Linked DNA regions of Homo sapiens: region 2 is linked to region 1. Evidence: fine-mapped expression QTL. A gene starts in region 1. The other region holds a variant in brackets. All regions are shown on one strand. Distances are from middle to middle. Region 1 holds the start of SNX8 (sorting nexin 8). Region 2 overlaps SNX8 (sorting nexin 8).

Region 1 (8,088 bases):
AATGGTGTGCCTGCTTGCATGGAGGTCCTGGTGTGCGGGGACCCTATGGCGTCCTAGGTGCAGTCATCTGTTACCGAGGCAGGGTCCAGCAGCTATAGCCAGAGGAAGTAACTACCTTGTGAGAAGGGGACGCTTCCTAGGAACTGACATGGTTCTGGGCTCTTGGTTCTGTAATCAACTCCCCGGACATTGTGTGACATCAGCGTTAGAAGGTCCAGGATGGCCGGGCACGGTGGCTCACACCTGTAATCCCAGCACTTTGGAAGGCCAAGGTGGGCGGATCACTTGAGGTCAGGAGTTCGAGACCAGCCTGGCCAACATGGTGAAAACCCATCTCTACAAAAATACAAAAATTAGCTGGGTGTGGTGGCACACGCCTGTAATACCAGCTACACGGGAGGCTGAGACAGGAGAATCGCTTGACCTGGGAGGCGGAGGTTGCAGTGAGCCAAGATCATGCCACTGCCCTCCGCTCCAGGCAACAGAGTGAGACTCTGTCTCAAAAAAAAAAAAAAAAAAAAAAAAAAAAAAAAAAAAAAAAAAAAAGAAGGTCCAGGATCCTTCCTTTGGAAACAAGCCCTTCCTGATGCAGGCCTACCAATCTCCATGCCAAACCCCACACTTTTAGCCTGGAATGACCACAGCATCTGCAGCTGATGTCTCAGAGCCTTCGTGCCCTCCTCCTACTTAACTCCTTATTCCTCCAGCCCTAACTCTGGTACCACCCATCCAGGGATCCCTTCACCCATGTAGGGAAGGGATCGCCCTTCACCCTTCACCCTCTTCTGCGGTGTGTTGCACAGCCTTGCTCCCGTTTTGGAACAGTTAGCACACTTGCTCCACTCTGGCCATCTGTGCCTCCTCCAGATCAAGGAATGCACAGGAAACATCTTTGTATTCTCAGCACCCAGCACAGGGCTTCCTGACCTCCTGGTGGCAGCCAGCAAACCTGAGTGGGCCAGTGGGTGGGTGGATAGATGCAGGATGCAGTGAGTGAGTGAGTGAGTGGGTGGGTGGATGAATGCAGGATGCAGTGAGTGAGTGGGTGGGTGAATGAATGAATGCAGGATGCAGTGAGTGAGTGAGTGGTTGCATGAATGAATGCATGATGCAGTGACTCAGTGAGTGGGTGAATGAATGAATGCAGGATGCAGTGAGTGAGTGGTTGTGTGAATGAATGCAGGATGCAGTGCGTGAGTGAGTGGGTGAATGAATGAATGAATGCAGGATGCAGTGAGTGAGTGGTTGTGTGAATGAATGCAGGATGCAGTGCGTGAGTGAGTGAGTGGGTGAATGAATGAATGCAGGATGCAGTGAGTGAGTGAGTGGGTGAATGAATGCAGGATGCAGTGAGTAAGTGGGTGAATGAATGCAGGATGCAGTGAGTGAGTGGTTGCGTGAATGAATGCAGGATGCAGTGCATGAGTGAGTGAGTGAGTGAATGAATGAATGCAGGATGCAGTGAGTGGGTGGGTGAATGAATGCAGGATGCAGTGAGTGAGTGAGTGAGTGGTTGTGTGAATGAATTCAGGATGCAGAGTGAGTGAGTGGGTGAATGAATGAATGCAGGATGCAGTGAGTGAGTGGGTGGGTGAGTGAATGCAGGATGCAGTGAGTGAGTGGGTGAATGAATGCAGGGTGCAGTGAGTGAGTGGTTGCGTGAATGAAAGCAGGATGCAGTGAGTGAGTGAGTGGGTGAATGAATGCAGGATGAAGTGCATGAGTGAGTGGGTGGGTAGATGAATGAATGCAGGATGCAGTGAGTGGGTGAGTGAGTGGGTGAATGAATGCAGGATGCAGTGAGTGTGGGTGAATGAATGTATGAAGAAGCAGTGAGTGAGTGAGTGGATGAATGAATGCAGGATGCAGTGAGTGAGTGAGTGGGTGGATGAATGAATGCAGGATGCAGTTAGTGAGTGAGTGAATGAATGCAGGATGCAGTTAGTGAGTGAGTGAATGAATGCAGGATGCAGTAAGTGAGTGAGTGGGTGAATGAATGAATGCAGGATGCAGTGAGTGAATGAATGAATGTAGGATGCAGTAAGTGAGTGAGTGGGTGAATGAATGAATGCAGGATGCAGTGAGTGAGTGACTGAATGAATGCAGAATGCAGTGAGTGGGTTGGTGAATGAATGAATGCAGGATGCAGTGCGTGAGTGGGTGAATGAATGTACGAAGAAGCAGTAAGTGAGTGAGTGAGTGAATGGATGAATGAATGCAGGATGCAGTGCATGAGTGAGTGGGTGGATGAATGAATGCAGGATGCAGTGAGTGAGTGGGTGAATGAACGTATGAAGAAGCAGTAAGTGAGTGAGTGAGTGAATGGATGAATGAATGCAGGATGCAGTGCATGAGTGAGTGGGTGGATGAATGAATGCAGGATGCAGTGAGTGAGTGGGTGAGTGGGTGAATGAATGCAGGATGCAATAAGTGAGTGAATGAGTGAATGCAGGATGCAGAGAGTGAGTGGGTGAGTGGGTGAATGAATGAATGCAGGATGCAGTGAGTGAGTGGGTGAGTGGGTGAATGAATGCAGGATGCAGTGCGTGAGTGGGTGAATGAATGAATGCAGGATGCAGTGAGTGAGTGGGTGAATGAATGAATGCAGGATGCAGTGAGTGAGTGGCTGGATGAATGAATGCAGGATGCAGTGAGTGAGTGGCTGGATGAATGCAGGATGCGGTGAGTGTGTGAGTGGATGAATGAATGTAGGATGCAGTGAGTGAGTGGGTGAATGAATGAATGCAGGATGCAGTGAGTGAGTGGGTGAATGAATGAATGCAGGATGCAGTGAGTGAGTGGGTGAATGATTGCAGGATGCAGTGAGTGAGTGAGTGGCTGGATGAATGCAGGATGCGGTGAGTGAGTGTGTGAGTGGATGAATGAATGTAGGATGCAGTGAGTGAGTGGGTGAATGAATGAATGCAGGATGCAGTGCGTGGGTGAGCGAATGAGTGGGTGAGTGGATGAATGAGGAAGTGCGAGTCAGAAAACCCCAGTGTAACCGGTGAATGAGCGAACAAGGGCGTGACTGGGCGAGGAGAGATGGGAGTGAATGAGGGTGCGGTGGGTGCAGGCTTGCGCCTGAGGTAGTGCACCTGCGAGTCCGGAGGTCCAACCTGAGGGGAGGTAACCTGCGCCACCAGCAGGCTCCGTGTCCACGTGGACGGGGAGGGGCATGTGGGCGTGGCTAGGCGGGTTGTAGGCGTGGCGAGGCCGGGCGAGGAGCGCGGCGGGCCCGCAGGGGCGGACTGTGGGCGTGGCGCGCGGGGGAGGGGGCGTGACCAGGCGGGGTGTGGGCGGGGCGAGGGCGCGGCGCGGCAGGGCTGCGCGGCCGGGTGGCGCGGGAGGAAGTCACGTGGGAGCGCGGGCTCACATGACTGGCCGCGCGATGGACCCGCTGCCCGCGGCTGCAGTCGGGGCGGCAGCTGAGGCGGAGGCTGACGAGGAGGCGGATCCCCCGGCGTCAGGTAGGGCGTGGGGCGGCGGTAGCCCCCACCTGCCCAGGGCGCGCGGCCCGACCACCCCCGGCGGACGGGGCTCAGCCGCCGCGCTTGGTCCCCGACTCGTTTCCTGCCCCCGCGCCCCGCGTTCGGCCCCACGCCCCAGTCCCTCGGAGGTCCCCCTGCCCTCCTGCGCGCCTGTCCTTTGGGGGTCCCCGTGCTCTCTCGCGCCTCCGTCCCTCGGGGTCCCCTGCCCTCCTGCGCCGGGAGAGCCCTGTCCAGGTTACAGCTGGCCGCGTTCCGAGGCGCTTTCCCGGGGCTCTCAGAGGCGTCCTCGGGGACAGTTTCCTCCTCGCCCCGTTCCTGGTGCCCTGCTCTTCTGCCCTGCCTGGTCACGCTGAGCGATGGCACTGGGGGCCACTTCCCCGGACTTGGGCGCCTTTCCTAGCCACATCCTCTCTCCCAAGCTCCTGTCGGTTGTGTGGTCTTGGGCCAGTAATTTCACCTCTCGGGACCTCTGTTTTCTCATCTGTGAACCGAATCTATAGATGTGTAGCTGCTTTTCTCTCTCTTTCAAGTGATCCTCCGCCTTAGCCTCCCAAAGTGCTGGGACTACGGGCGCGTGCAGTTACGCCCGGTAATTTTTTTTATTTTTGTAGAGATGGGATCTTGCTATGTTGTCCAGGCTGGTCTGGAGCTTCTGGCCTCAAGCGGTCCTCCTGCCTTGGCCTCCCAAAGTGCTGGGAGTACGGGCATGAGCCATCGTGCCTGGCCTGTATTTCTGTCTTTTTCTTTTTTCTTTTTCTTTTCTTTTCTTTTTTTTTTTTTTTTGAGACAGATTCTCACTGTCACTCAGGCTGGAGTGCAATGGTGCGATCTCGGCTCATTGCAACCTCCGCCTCCCGGGTTCAAGCGATTCTCCTGCCTCAGCCTCCTGAGTAGCTGGGATTACAGGCATCCACCATGACACTCGGCTAAATTTTGTATTTTTAGTAGAGACGGAGTTTCACCATGTTGGCCAGGCTGGTCTCGAACTCCTGACCTCAGGTGATCCAACCACCTCAGCTTCCCAGAGTGCTGGGATTACAGGCGTGAGCCACCGCGCCTGGCCTCTTGTATTTCTCTTTAAGGGATTTGGGTTAATGAGGCTAAACATGGCTGGGCACGGTGGCTCACGCTTGTAATCTCAGCACTTTGGGAGGCCGAGGCGGGCGGATCACGAGGTCAGGAGATCAAGACCATCCTGGCTAACACGGTGAAACCCTGTCTCTACTAAAAATACAAAAAAAATTAGCCAGGCGCGGTGGCGGGCGCCTGTAGTCCCAGCTACTCGGGAGGCTGAGGCAGGAGAATGGCGTGAACCCGGGAGGCAGAGCTTGTAGTGAGCCGAGATAGCGCCACTGCACTCCAGCCTGGGCGACAGAGCGAGACTCCGCCTCAAAAAAAACAAAACAAAACAAAACAAACGAGGCTAAACATTAGAAGGAATACAGGAGGGTGCCCCTTATTTCTGGATGTTCCTTCCTGTGGTCCTAGCTGCCAGAGAAGAGATGTAGGTGGGTGTTGGTGTGAGTTACGGTTTCTTCTTGGTGGGGGGGGACAAGATTGGGGAATCCCCTTGTGGGGAGGTCTGGCAAGGTGTCGCTGAGGAGGTGATGACTGAAGTGAGCTCTGGAGGGTTGGTAGACAGTTTCTTCGTCGGCGAGAAACGGCAGCGGGGAGCAGGGGAGGGATTGTTGCATTTGGTGGGCATCCTCGATGTGAAGACTGTGTCTAGAAAGAAGGGCCTTTCAGAATGGGTCTTCAGTTATTTTTTCCTTTCCCTTGTATCAGTGTAAGGGGAGGCACGTGATAGTTCTCGCTGATTAGAACATTGTGTCCATGAAGTCACATGTTGGAGGCCAGCGTGAGTCTCAGGCGGGACCCTTTCCGAGGGGTCACTTGGGAACAGGTAGGCTGTGATTGGATCGGAATGCTGCTGCTATCTCAGCTTGTAAAGCAATTTGGCATTGCTGGAGGGGTCCTCTGCAGGTGTAGGGGACTGTGTTTCCTTCAGGCTTCACAGAAGTAGACTCCAGAGGCTACCATAATGGTGTAATTTAGAGATAGTCTGAGCGCTGTACACCTGAGGGAGCTGTGTCTCTGGGAGACCGCCCTCCCTTTGGTGTGGCCTGGAATTCCTGTAGGTAGTTGGCTTTTTCTGGGGGCAGTGGTGATTTCATCAGGAGTGCTGATGGGATCCACAGATGGGGGTTGCTGGGACAAGGCAGTGCTTCACAGTGCCCTTTCCTGTAACCAGGCAAGTCTGAAAGTGGGGCTCACAGACTCTTGGGACGTAGACTGTCCTTCTGTTTGAAACTTGGTCGTCATCCTGGCAGGTGGGTGAAGTGGTATAGCAGGTCTTTTTTTTTTTTTCTTGAGACGGAGTCTCGCTCTGTCGCCCAGGCTGGAGTGCAGTGGTGTGATCTCGGCTCACTGCAAGCTCTGCCTCCCGGGTTCATGCCATTCTCCTGCCTCAGCCTCCCGAGTAGCTGGGACTACAGGCGCCCGCCACCACGCCCGGCTAATTTTTTGTATTTTTAGTAGAGACGGGGTTTCACCATGTTAGCCAGGATGGTCTCGATCTCCTGACCTCGTGATCTAGCCGCCTCGGCCTCCCAAAGTGCTGGGATTACAGGCGTGAGCCACCGCGCCCGGCCTCGCAGGTCTTTTTACATTGAGAAAACTAAAATCCAGAGGTAAGTAATTTGCCCAAAGTGGGCAATGTCAAGGGAATGTGTGTTGATGGGGACCCTGATTGGGTGGGCTGGAGTGAGAAAACCTCAGCCTTGAGACCAAGCACTGTGGCTCACGTCTGAAATCACAGCACTTGGGGAGGCTGAGGAGGGAGGATCGCCCGAGCCCAGGCGCTAGAGACCAGCCTGGACAACGTAGCGAAATCCTGTCTCAAATTTTTAAAAAAGAAAACAAAAACAAAAACAGCAAAGAAAAAAGTTAAGTCTCTGAATATTGTCCGGAGACTATGTGTGTGACTTACACGTTCACTAAGGTTGGTTTGAAGGAGTGGTTGTGCCTTACGGGTATACAGTGAATTTCCTCTTCTCTAGAGTTTTGGCCACACAGCCAGAGCCCACTGGTGGTATTCATGTGGGAACTGTGAAATCTCCTGCATCTTCGGTGTTGCCAGAAAAAAATGTGCTTGTTGTACTTTTCCACATTAAGAGTCTCATTCTATTTGAATTCTTTGAAGCTTAAGCTGTGAATGCTCTCTAGGGCAACCCTCTTTATAAAAACTTAATTTTCAGTTATGCCATACATGGACAAATGTATTTTCTTTAAAAAAGAATAGAACATTGTAGATTAAGTGAAAGTCCCATCCTAATTGCCATCATCTCCTGTCTGTACCTGAGAGGTGACCATTGTTCTCAGTTTGGGATGGACCGTTTTAGTTCTGTTTTCACATTTTATTCATATATGTACTCAGGAAACATATACTTCCTTATATAAGTGTGCTCATGTTTCCCTAGCGTAGTATATTCTCTAGCTTTCTTTTGTTCCTTTTATTTTTATTTATTTATTTTTTTGAGACGTAGTTTCACTCTTTTGCCCAGGCTGGAGTGCAGTGGTGCGATCTTGGCTCACTGCAAGCTCCACCTCCTGGGTTGACGCCATTCTTCTTTCTGCCTCAGCCTCCTGAGTAGCTGGGACTACAGGTGCCTGCCACCACACCTGACTAATTTTTTGTATTTTTAGTAGAGATGGCATTTCACCGTGTTAGCCAGGTTGGTCTTGATCTCCTGACCTCATGATCTGCCTGCCTCGGCCTACCAAAGTGCTGAGATTACAGGGGTGAACCACTGCGCCCAGCCACGCCTGGCCAATTTTTAAAATTTTTTGTAGAGACAGTCTGGCTGTGTTGCCCAGGCTGGTGTGGAACTCCTGGCCTCAAGCAATCCTCCCACCCGGGCCTCCCAAAGTGCTGGGATTTCAGGCATGAGGCACCGAGCCTGGCTGGATTTTATATTGAAACTATTCCTGTCAAAATATCTGATTGACCGGAACATTCTGTCCTCTGACTATGCAGGATAAGGGTTTTTTTCAGGGCCTGTTCTTAGGTCATGAAGCTCAATGATTGTGACATCCAGCGAGAACGGCAGTGAGTGTGGTAAGTGTGCTTGGTCGTCCAGCCTGATTTCTCGGGATCGATTAATACATGGATAGAAATATGTACAGATGACCACGGCGTATCCTGGCTCTGCCGTATACAGTCCTGCGGCCCTACATTGACTCTTTAGAACGAGGGTGAGTCACGCTTCACTTGCGGCTCATCCCATGGCATTCCATACATTCCATTCGGTTCGGAAGCTCCGTGCTGTTTGTCCGCGTTGACCTGGCGATGACTCCTTGAGTGTCATTGAGGCAGGTCCAGGGCCTTTGCTGACCCTCGGGGCTCCTTCACCCCTGCCCCGAGCCTTCCCCTCTTGCCTGGGCGACTTCCATGCACCCTGGGCTCCCATCAACCCTTACCTGCAGCTGCTCGCTCATGTCAGGTCTGTTCTCTGTGTGAATACGTTGGTCAGAATTCATTGCGCTGTCACTTAAAGTTTATACTTTTTTTTTTTTGAGATGGAGTCTCGCTCTTGTT
Region 2 (8,088 bases), 46 kb after region 1:
CCATGTCCCGGCCCCGGGGAGTCCCCGAGCCTCCGGACCCGCCTTTTCCTCTCTCAGGTGTGGTTTCTTATCCTCCTGGTCCCTTGTTTGGACGCCCAGCAGGAATGACATGGACAAGACTTCTTTCCTTTCCAGATAACAGTCTGAATGTGATTTTCAGAGGTGTCCCTGGTGTTGACTTTGCAGGATTTTGTAAATCCGCGTGGAGATCATGGATCTCTGTGGTCACTTTGAGGATTTAGGCTGGATGGTTTGGAGGGTTTAGGGAGGTGCCAGAGACTCCAGATGGGAAGAAGTGTTGACTTAAAACAAGGCCCTGTCTGACTAAGGACCACTGGAACACAGGCTGAGCCTCCTTGTCAGAGCCACAGCCCACACCTGCATCCGGGAATTAACTTGTTGTACATGCACTCCGTCAGAGGTCTGAGTGGGGCTTCCCTCCTCCCAGCTGCTGCGGCACAGCCTTATTGTGTGTCAAGAAGCTACAGTTCGCAGGTACAGTGGCCCACGCCTCTAATCCCAGCGCTCGGAGAGGCCGAGGCTGGATGGTCCCTTAAGCCCAGGCGTTTGAGACCAGCCTGGACAACATAGCGAGACTTCGTCTCTACCAAAACAAAACTGAGGCCAGGCATGGTGGTGCACACCTGTAATCCCAGTCACTTGGGAGGCTGAGGCATGAGAATCGCTTGAACCCAGGAGGTGGAGCTTGCAGTGAGCTGTGATTGTGCCACTGCACTCCAGCCTGGGCGACAGAGTGAGACCCTGTCTCAAAAAAACAAAAAACAACCCTGCAGCCCAGCTCCTGTTTCCTGGAGGAGGAAGCAGCTGCCAGCCCCTCCAGGGAAGGCGGGTCCTGTGCTTCTCCTCCACCTGTGCCTGCAGGACCCTCTCCCTGTGCGGGGAGGGGCGGGGGCTCCACTGGAATAGAGGTTTCCAGGCTCTCCTCTATTTCAGGGAAACCCCGTCTTGAATGGGGACCTGACGGCCTCTGTCCTTGTCCCTGCTGCAGGAAGACACCCCCTCTCCCAGGCTGACTTCACACAAGCCTTGGTTCCTTTTGTCTTCGTTCCTCTCGGAGGCAGAGGGGCCTTCCCCCTGTGCCTGAGATGTCCCTGGGATGCCCCCGGGGATGTCTGGAGCAGGCAGTGGGATCTTTTGAGCCCTGGGGTTGGAAACCTTCCTTTGGAGGCGATCTGCATTGCCAGCAGAGGAATGTGGCAGGACCTGGGAGGGGCGGTGGGCAGGGGTGCAGTGGGTCACAGGTGGGCAATATCCCTGTTCTGGGGGCAGGACGTTCCCTGTGGCCTTCCCACAGGTATCATTCTCTGTCACTTCCCGGCCTCAGTTTTCTTGCTTGCTTTCTGTTTTTAGAGATGGGGTCTCACTATGTTACCCAGGCTGGCCCTGAACCCCTGGGCTCCAGCGATCCTCCCGCCTCAGGCTCTGAGTAGCTGGGACTACAGGCACGCACCATGCTGGGCCTCAGGTCTTTTTTTTTTTTTTTTTTTTTTTTTTTGTAAAATGAGAGTTGAGTCAGATGATCTTTAAGGCATCTCTGAAACCTGAGAATTCCTGGACACGCAAACAGCTGCATATTAGGGTTTCCCCTTGTATCTCCTGGGTGGCTCCTGACTTTAAGGCACGGCTTTGCCCAGGAGGCCTCTTTCAGATGAGAGGGCTCCGGTGCCAGGGGCTGGGCCTGTCCCTCTGCCCAGCAGCTCCCTGGGCTCTGGTGTCCCTGGCGCCATGGATGCATTCCCAGGAAGGAAGACACTTTTGCCCTGTTCTATTGCGTTTTTGGAAGCTACCAGGGTCTCAGGTATCTCTGGGGCTGACGCCGCCCCGGGTCTGTGGATGGAGGGGCCGTTTCTCTGCAGAGCCGCCCCTGGTCTGTGGATGGAGTGGCTGTTTCTCTGGAGAGCTGCCCCCCGTCTGCGGATGGAGTGGCTGTGCCTCTGGAGAGAGGCTGCAGGTTTGTGGTGCTCCTGCTGTGAAGCCAGGCTGTCCTGTTTGGTGAGAAAAACATCTAAGGGAGAGTCAAGAGATTGCAGAATACTAATGTCAAAGCCAACATATGGAAATGTGTTTCTCCTGAGGAAAGACGACCTCCCGCTCCACAGTGACCCATACCCCACAGCAGCTTTCTTGCTGCTAGTAGAAGAGGGTGAAGCTGTGTGTTTTCCTTTTGCAGGATGTGCAGAACAAGTTAAAGGAGTCAGCACAGTGCGTCGGGGACGAATTCCTGAACTGTAAGCTGGCTACCAGGGCCAAGGTATTTTTCTTTTTTTTTTCTTTTTTTTTTTTTTTAATTTATTTTTTTATTGATCATTCTTGGGTGTTTCTCGCAGAGGGGGATTTGGCAGGGTCATGGGACAATAGTGGAGGGAAGGTCAGCAGATAAACAAGTGAACAAAGGTCTCTGGTTTTCCTAGGCAGAGGACCCTGCGGCCTTCCGCAGTGTTTGTGTCCCTGATTACTTGAGATTAGGGAGTGGTGATGACTCTTAACGAGCATGCTGCCTTCAAGCATCTGTTTAACAAAGCACATCCTGCACCGCCCTTAATCCATTTAACCCTGAGTGGACACAGCACAGGGTTGGGGGTAAGGTCACAGATCAACAGGATCCCAAGGCAGAGGAATTTTTCTTAGTACAGAACAAAATGAAAAGTCTCCCATGTCTACTTCTTTCTACACAGACACGGCAACCATCCGATTTCTCAATCTTTTCCCCACCTTTCCCGCCTTTCTATTCCACAAAGCCGCCATTGTCATCCTGGCCCGTTCTCAATGAGCTGTTGGGCACACCTCCCAGACGGGGTGGTGGCCGGGCAGAGGGGCTCCTCACTTCCCAGTAGGGGTGGCCGGGCAGAGGCGCCCCTCACCTCCCGGACGGGGCGGCTGGCCAGGCAGGGGGGCTGACCCCCCCCCACCTCCCTCCCGGACGGGGCGGCTGGCCGGGCGGGGGGCTGACCCCCCCACCTCCCTCCCGGACGGGGCGGCTGGCCGGGCAGAGGGCCTCCTCACTTCCCAGTAGGGGCGGCCGGGCAGAGGCGCCCCTCACCTCCCGGACGGGGCGGCTGGCCGGGCTGGGGGGCTGACCCCCCCCACCTCCCTCCCGGACGGGGCGGCTGGCTGGGCAGAGGGGCTCCTCACTTCCCAGTAGGGGCGGCCGGGCAGAGGCGCCCCTCACCTCCCAGACGGGGCGGCTGGCTGGGCGGAGGGCTGACCCCCCCACCTCCCTCCCGGACAGGGCGGCTGGCCAGGCGGGGGGCTGACCCCCCCACCTCCCTCCCGGATGGCACGGCTGGCCGGGCGGGGGGGCTGACCCCCCACCTCCCTCCCGGATGGGGCGGCTGGCCGGGCGGGGGGCTGACCCCCCCCACCTCCCTCCCGGATGGGGTGGCTGCCGGGCGGAGACGCTCCTCACTTCCCAGATGGGGTGGCTGCCGGGCGGAGAGGCTCCTCACTTCTCAGACAGGGCAGCTGCCGGGCGGAGGGGCTCCTCACTTCTCAGACGGGGTGGTTGCCAGGCAGAGGGTCTCCTCACTTCTCAGACGGGGCGGCCGGGCAGAGACGCTCCTCACCTCCCAGACGGGGTCTCGCCGGGCAGAGGCGCTCCTCACATCCCAGATGGGGCGGCTGGCCGGGCGGAGGGCTGACGCCCCCCACCTCCCTCCCGGATGGGGCGGCTGGCCAGGCGGGGGGCTGACCCCCCCACCTCCCTCCCGGACGGGGCGGCTGGCCAGGTGGTGGGGCTGACCCCCCCATCTCCCTCCCGGACGGGGTGGCTGGCCGGGCAGAGACGCTCCTCACCTCCCAGACGGGGTCTCGGCCGGGCAGAGGCGCTCCTCACATCCCAGATGGGGCGGCGGGGCAGAGGCGCTCCCCACATCTCAGACTATGGGCGGCCGGGCAGAGACGCTCCTCACTTCCTAGATGTGATGGCGGCTGGGAAGAGGCGCTCCTCACTTCCTAGATGGGATGGCGGCCGGGCGGAGACGCTCCTCACTTTCCAGACTGGGCAGCCAGGCAGAGGGGCTCCTCACATCCCAGACGATGGGCGGCCAGGCAGAGACACTCCTCACTTCCCAGACGGGGTGGCGGCCGGGCAGAGGCTGCAGTCTCGGCACTTTGGGAGGCCAAGGCAGGCGGCTGGGAGGTGTAGGTTGTAGTGAGCCGAGATCACGTCACTGCACTCCAGCCTGGGCACCATTGAGCACTGAGTGAACGAGACTCCGTCTGCAATCCCGGCACCTCGGGAGGCCGAGGTTGGCGGATCACTCGCGGTTAGGGGCTGGAGACCGGCCCGGCCAACACAGCGAAACCCCGTCTCCACCAAAACCAGTCAGGCGTGGCGGCGCGTGCCTGCAATCGCAGGCATTCGGCAGACTGAGGCAGGAGAATCAGGCAGGGAGGTTGCAGTGAGCCGAGATGGCAGCAGTACAGTCCAGCTTCGGCTCCGCATGAGAGGGAGACTGTGGGGTGAGGGAGAGGGAGAGGGGGAGGGGGAGGGGGAGGGGGAGGGAGAGGGCCAAGGTATTTTTCTAACTTTGAAGAGTACATCCCTTTTTAACCAGAGAAACAAGTTTTAACCCTTCAAAGTGATTTTGCCTCCTCTG[C/T]GTGGCAGGGATTATGCTGACATCTGTCGCATGGTTTCCTCATTTAACCCTCGTTTCAGTTGCTCCGACACAGGGCTGGGAGGCCTGTTTTACGGATGGAGAAACAGGCTCAGGGAGGCTGTCATTTGCCAAGGCCCCGAGCCTCTAAGCAGCAGGGCCGGGTTGCGGCTGAGCTCTGCCCTCAGGCCCTCCAGGCACCTCGTGCCCTCTGCCCTTTTCTGTGACTCAGACAGACGGATGCTTGTGTCAGCACCTTTTCAGATTTCTGGGGATTCATTGTTACATTTGTTTATTATTAAATGTTTAAAGTTTGGTCTTTTTCCAAAAAAGACTAAGGTAGCTACTTGGTAGTTTTTTTGTTTTTGGTTTTTTCTTTTTAAACCTCTTCTTCAGGCTGGCGCGGTGGCTCCTTCCTGTAATCCCAGCACTTTGGGAGGCTGAGGCTGTCGGATCACTTGAGGTCAGGAGTTTGAGACCAGCCTGGCCAACATAGCAAAACCCCATCTCTAATAAAAATACAAAACAAAAAAGGAAAACAAAAAAAAGCAAAACAAACCCCAAAAAACCGGCCGGGCGTGGTGGCTTACGCCTGTAATCCTAGCACTTTGGGAGGCCGAGGCGGGTGGATCACGAGGTCAGGAGTTCAAGACTAGCCTGACTAACATGGTGAAACCCCGCCTCTACTAAAAATACAAAAATTAGCTGGGTGCGGTGGCGTGCACCTGTAATTCCAGCTACTCAGGAGGCTGAGGCAGGAGAATTGCTTGAACCTAGGAGGAAGAGGTTGGAGTGAGCCAAGATTGCGCCACTGCACTCCAGCCTGGACGACAGAGACACCATCAAAAAAAAGAAAAAAAAAATTAGCCAGGCTTGGTGGCAGGCACCTGTAATCCCAGCTATTTGGGAGGCTGAGGCAAGAGGACTGCTTGAACCCAGGAGGCAGAGGCTGCAGTGAGCCCAGGTCGTGCCATTGCACTCCAGCCTGGGTAACAGAGTGAGACTTTGTGTCAAAGACGACAACAACAACAACAAAAAAACCAGAAAAAAACCTGCTTCTTCATACAAAAATTAAAAATCTATTTTATTTTATTTTTTGAGACAAGGTCTTGCTCTGTCCTCTAGGCTATAGTGCAGTGGTGCAATCGTAGGTCATTGCAGCCTCGACCTCCTGAGTTCAAGCAATTCTCCCACTTCAGCCTCCCAGAATAGCTGGGACCACAGGCATGCACCACAGTACTTGGCTGATTTGTTTGTTTGTTTTTGGTATAGATGAAGTCTCACTATGTTGCCCAGGCTGGTCTTGAACTCTTGGCCTCAAGCAATCCTCCTGGCATGGCCCCCCAAAGTACTGGGATTAAAGGCATGAGCCACCATGCCTGGCCAAATCTTTTACCTTCATTTTACTCTCTGAGCTTTCTGTTTTCTGAACTCTGATAGTTAGTATCAAATCTTATAAAAAGTCTTTGGGAATAAACGCGGCATAGAAGAGGCCTTCCCCCCATGTGGAGAGTCTTTCAGGAATTTATGTTCATTGTGTTTAACTTGAAGATTGTTTGTTTTTATTTTTGTTGTTTTCTGGGGACAGGGTCCCCAGGCTGGAGTGCAGTGTTGTGATCATGGCTCCTTGCAGCATGGAACTCCTGGGCTCAAGTGATCCTCCTGCCTCAGCCCTCTGTAAGCACCTGGGACCACAGGCGCTCCACCACGCCTGGCTAATTTTTTGATTTTTTGGGAGAGATGGGGTTTCACTATGTTGCCCAGGCTGTTCTTAAACTCCCAGGCTCTAGCAATCCTCTTGCCTCAGTCTCCCAGAGCGCTGGGGTACAGGTGTGAGTCACTGTATCCAGCTAAAGATTAGTATTGTTAGTTTTTGAGACGGAGTCTCGCTCTGTTGCCCAGGCTGGGGTGCAGTGGTGTGATCGCAGCTCACTGCAAGCTCCGCCTCCGGGGTTCATGCCATTCTCCTGCCTCAGCCTCCCAAGTAGCTGGGACTAGGTGCCCACCACCAGGCTCGGCTAATTTTTTGTATTTTTAGTAGAGATGGGGTTTCACCATAGTCTCGATCTCCTTACCTCGTGATTCGCCCTACTCGGCCTCCCAAAGTGCTGGGATTACAGGCGTGAGCCACTGCGCCCGGCAAGATTATTATTCGAGTGTTTTGTTGGTTTGTTTGTTTTGAGACAGAGTCTCGTTCTGTCGCCCAAACTGGAGTGTGGTTGCGCGATCTCAGCTCACTGCAACCTCTGCCTCCCGGATTCAAGCAATTCTCCTGTCTCAGCCTCTGGAGTAGCTGGGATTACAGGTGCATGCCGCCATGCCCAGCTAATTTTTGTATTTTTAGTGGAGATGGGGTTTCACCATATTGGTCAGGCTGGTCTTGAACTCCTGACCTGAGGTGATCCACCTGCCTCAGCCTCCAAAGTGCTGGGATTACAGGTGTGAGTGACTGCCCCTGGCCTTATTTGAGTGTTTTTGGATAGGTCCTCCAGTGTGATGAGATTTCAGTGGACTCTGTGGTCCTCATCCCATGGGATCATTTGTCTTTGTGTTTGTGGCATGCAGGTGATGATGGTTTTTGTTTCTTTTTTGGACACACAGAGTGATCCCTGCAGGCCTGGAGGAGTGGGGCTCCCGGGGTGGCTCATGGACCTGCTGTGTCTCCCGTGGCTCAGCTTCTGGGGGACCGGCTGCTGCCGTCTGACAGGTGCTCCCCAGCGACTAACACAGTGTCTCTCCCCCCATCATGATGTCAGGACTTCCTCCCAGCTGACATCCAGGCTCAGTTTGCCATCAGCCGGGAGCTGATCCGGAACATCTACAATAGCTTTCACAAGCTTCGCGACAGGGCCGAGCGGATCGCATCGCGGGCCATCGACAATGCGGCAGATCTTCTCATATTCGGGAAGGAGCTAAGGTAGGTGACCTTTCAGCTTCTGCAGGGGCACGCGCGGTGGGACGGGAATCCATGCTGGTGAAGGGCTTGGGCGGAAAGTGCGTTTACCGTAATAACCAGCATCCTGACCTGTTTCATCTCAGAAGGGGCAGAAAGTGGCTCAGGCACATGGGGGGTCATATTTGGAAGAAACACGGGAGAATTTCGGCCCTGAAACACGGATTTCTGAGCACGAGTAAATGCTCACCAGTTTCTAGTCTGGTAGTTTTTTCACTGTCAGGATGAGACTTTAAAAAAAGATCCCAGGCCAGGCGTGGTGGCTCACACCTGTAATCCCAGCACTTTGGGAGGCCGAGGTGGGTGGATCACGAGGTCAGGAGTTCAAGATCAGCCTGGCCAAGATGGTGAAACCCGTCTCTACTAAAAATACAAAAAAAAGTTCTCTGGGCGTGGTGGCGGGTGCCTGTCATCTCAGCTACTCGGGAGGCTGAGGCAGAGAATTGCTTGAACCTAGGAGGCGGAGGTTGCAGTGAGCCGAGATCGCGCCACTGCACTCCAGCCTGGGTGATACAGCGA

Evidence for each region. PIP is the estimated chance that this variant, and not a neighbour inherited with it, causes the effect.
Region 2: its variant is fine-mapped to the expression of SNX8 in lung (TOPMed, PIP above 0.99).

What each region holds. Positions count from the first base shown.
Region 1 is chr7:2,309,710-2,317,797 of GRCh38, reverse strand. It overlaps SNX8 (sorting nexin 8), which reads left to right and starts at 3,357. Exons shown (of 11, transcript NM_013321.4): 1 at 3,357-3,470. The coding sequence starts at 3,377. RefSeq lists enhancers at 2,252-2,752, 2,753-3,253, 4,998-5,127, 5,168-5,247, 5,448-5,617 and 4 more and silencers at 3,072-3,341, 3,442-3,681.
Region 2 is chr7:2,263,743-2,271,830 of GRCh38, reverse strand. SNX8 (sorting nexin 8) reads left to right here. Exons shown (of 11, transcript NM_013321.4): 5 at 2,192-2,272; 6 at 7,373-7,533. Among named protein-coding and RNA genes, the nearest start is that of MIR6836, 10 kb to the right of the region's middle. RefSeq lists enhancers at 1-554, 1,164-1,774. The variant C/T (reference allele first, on the strand shown) is at 4,620.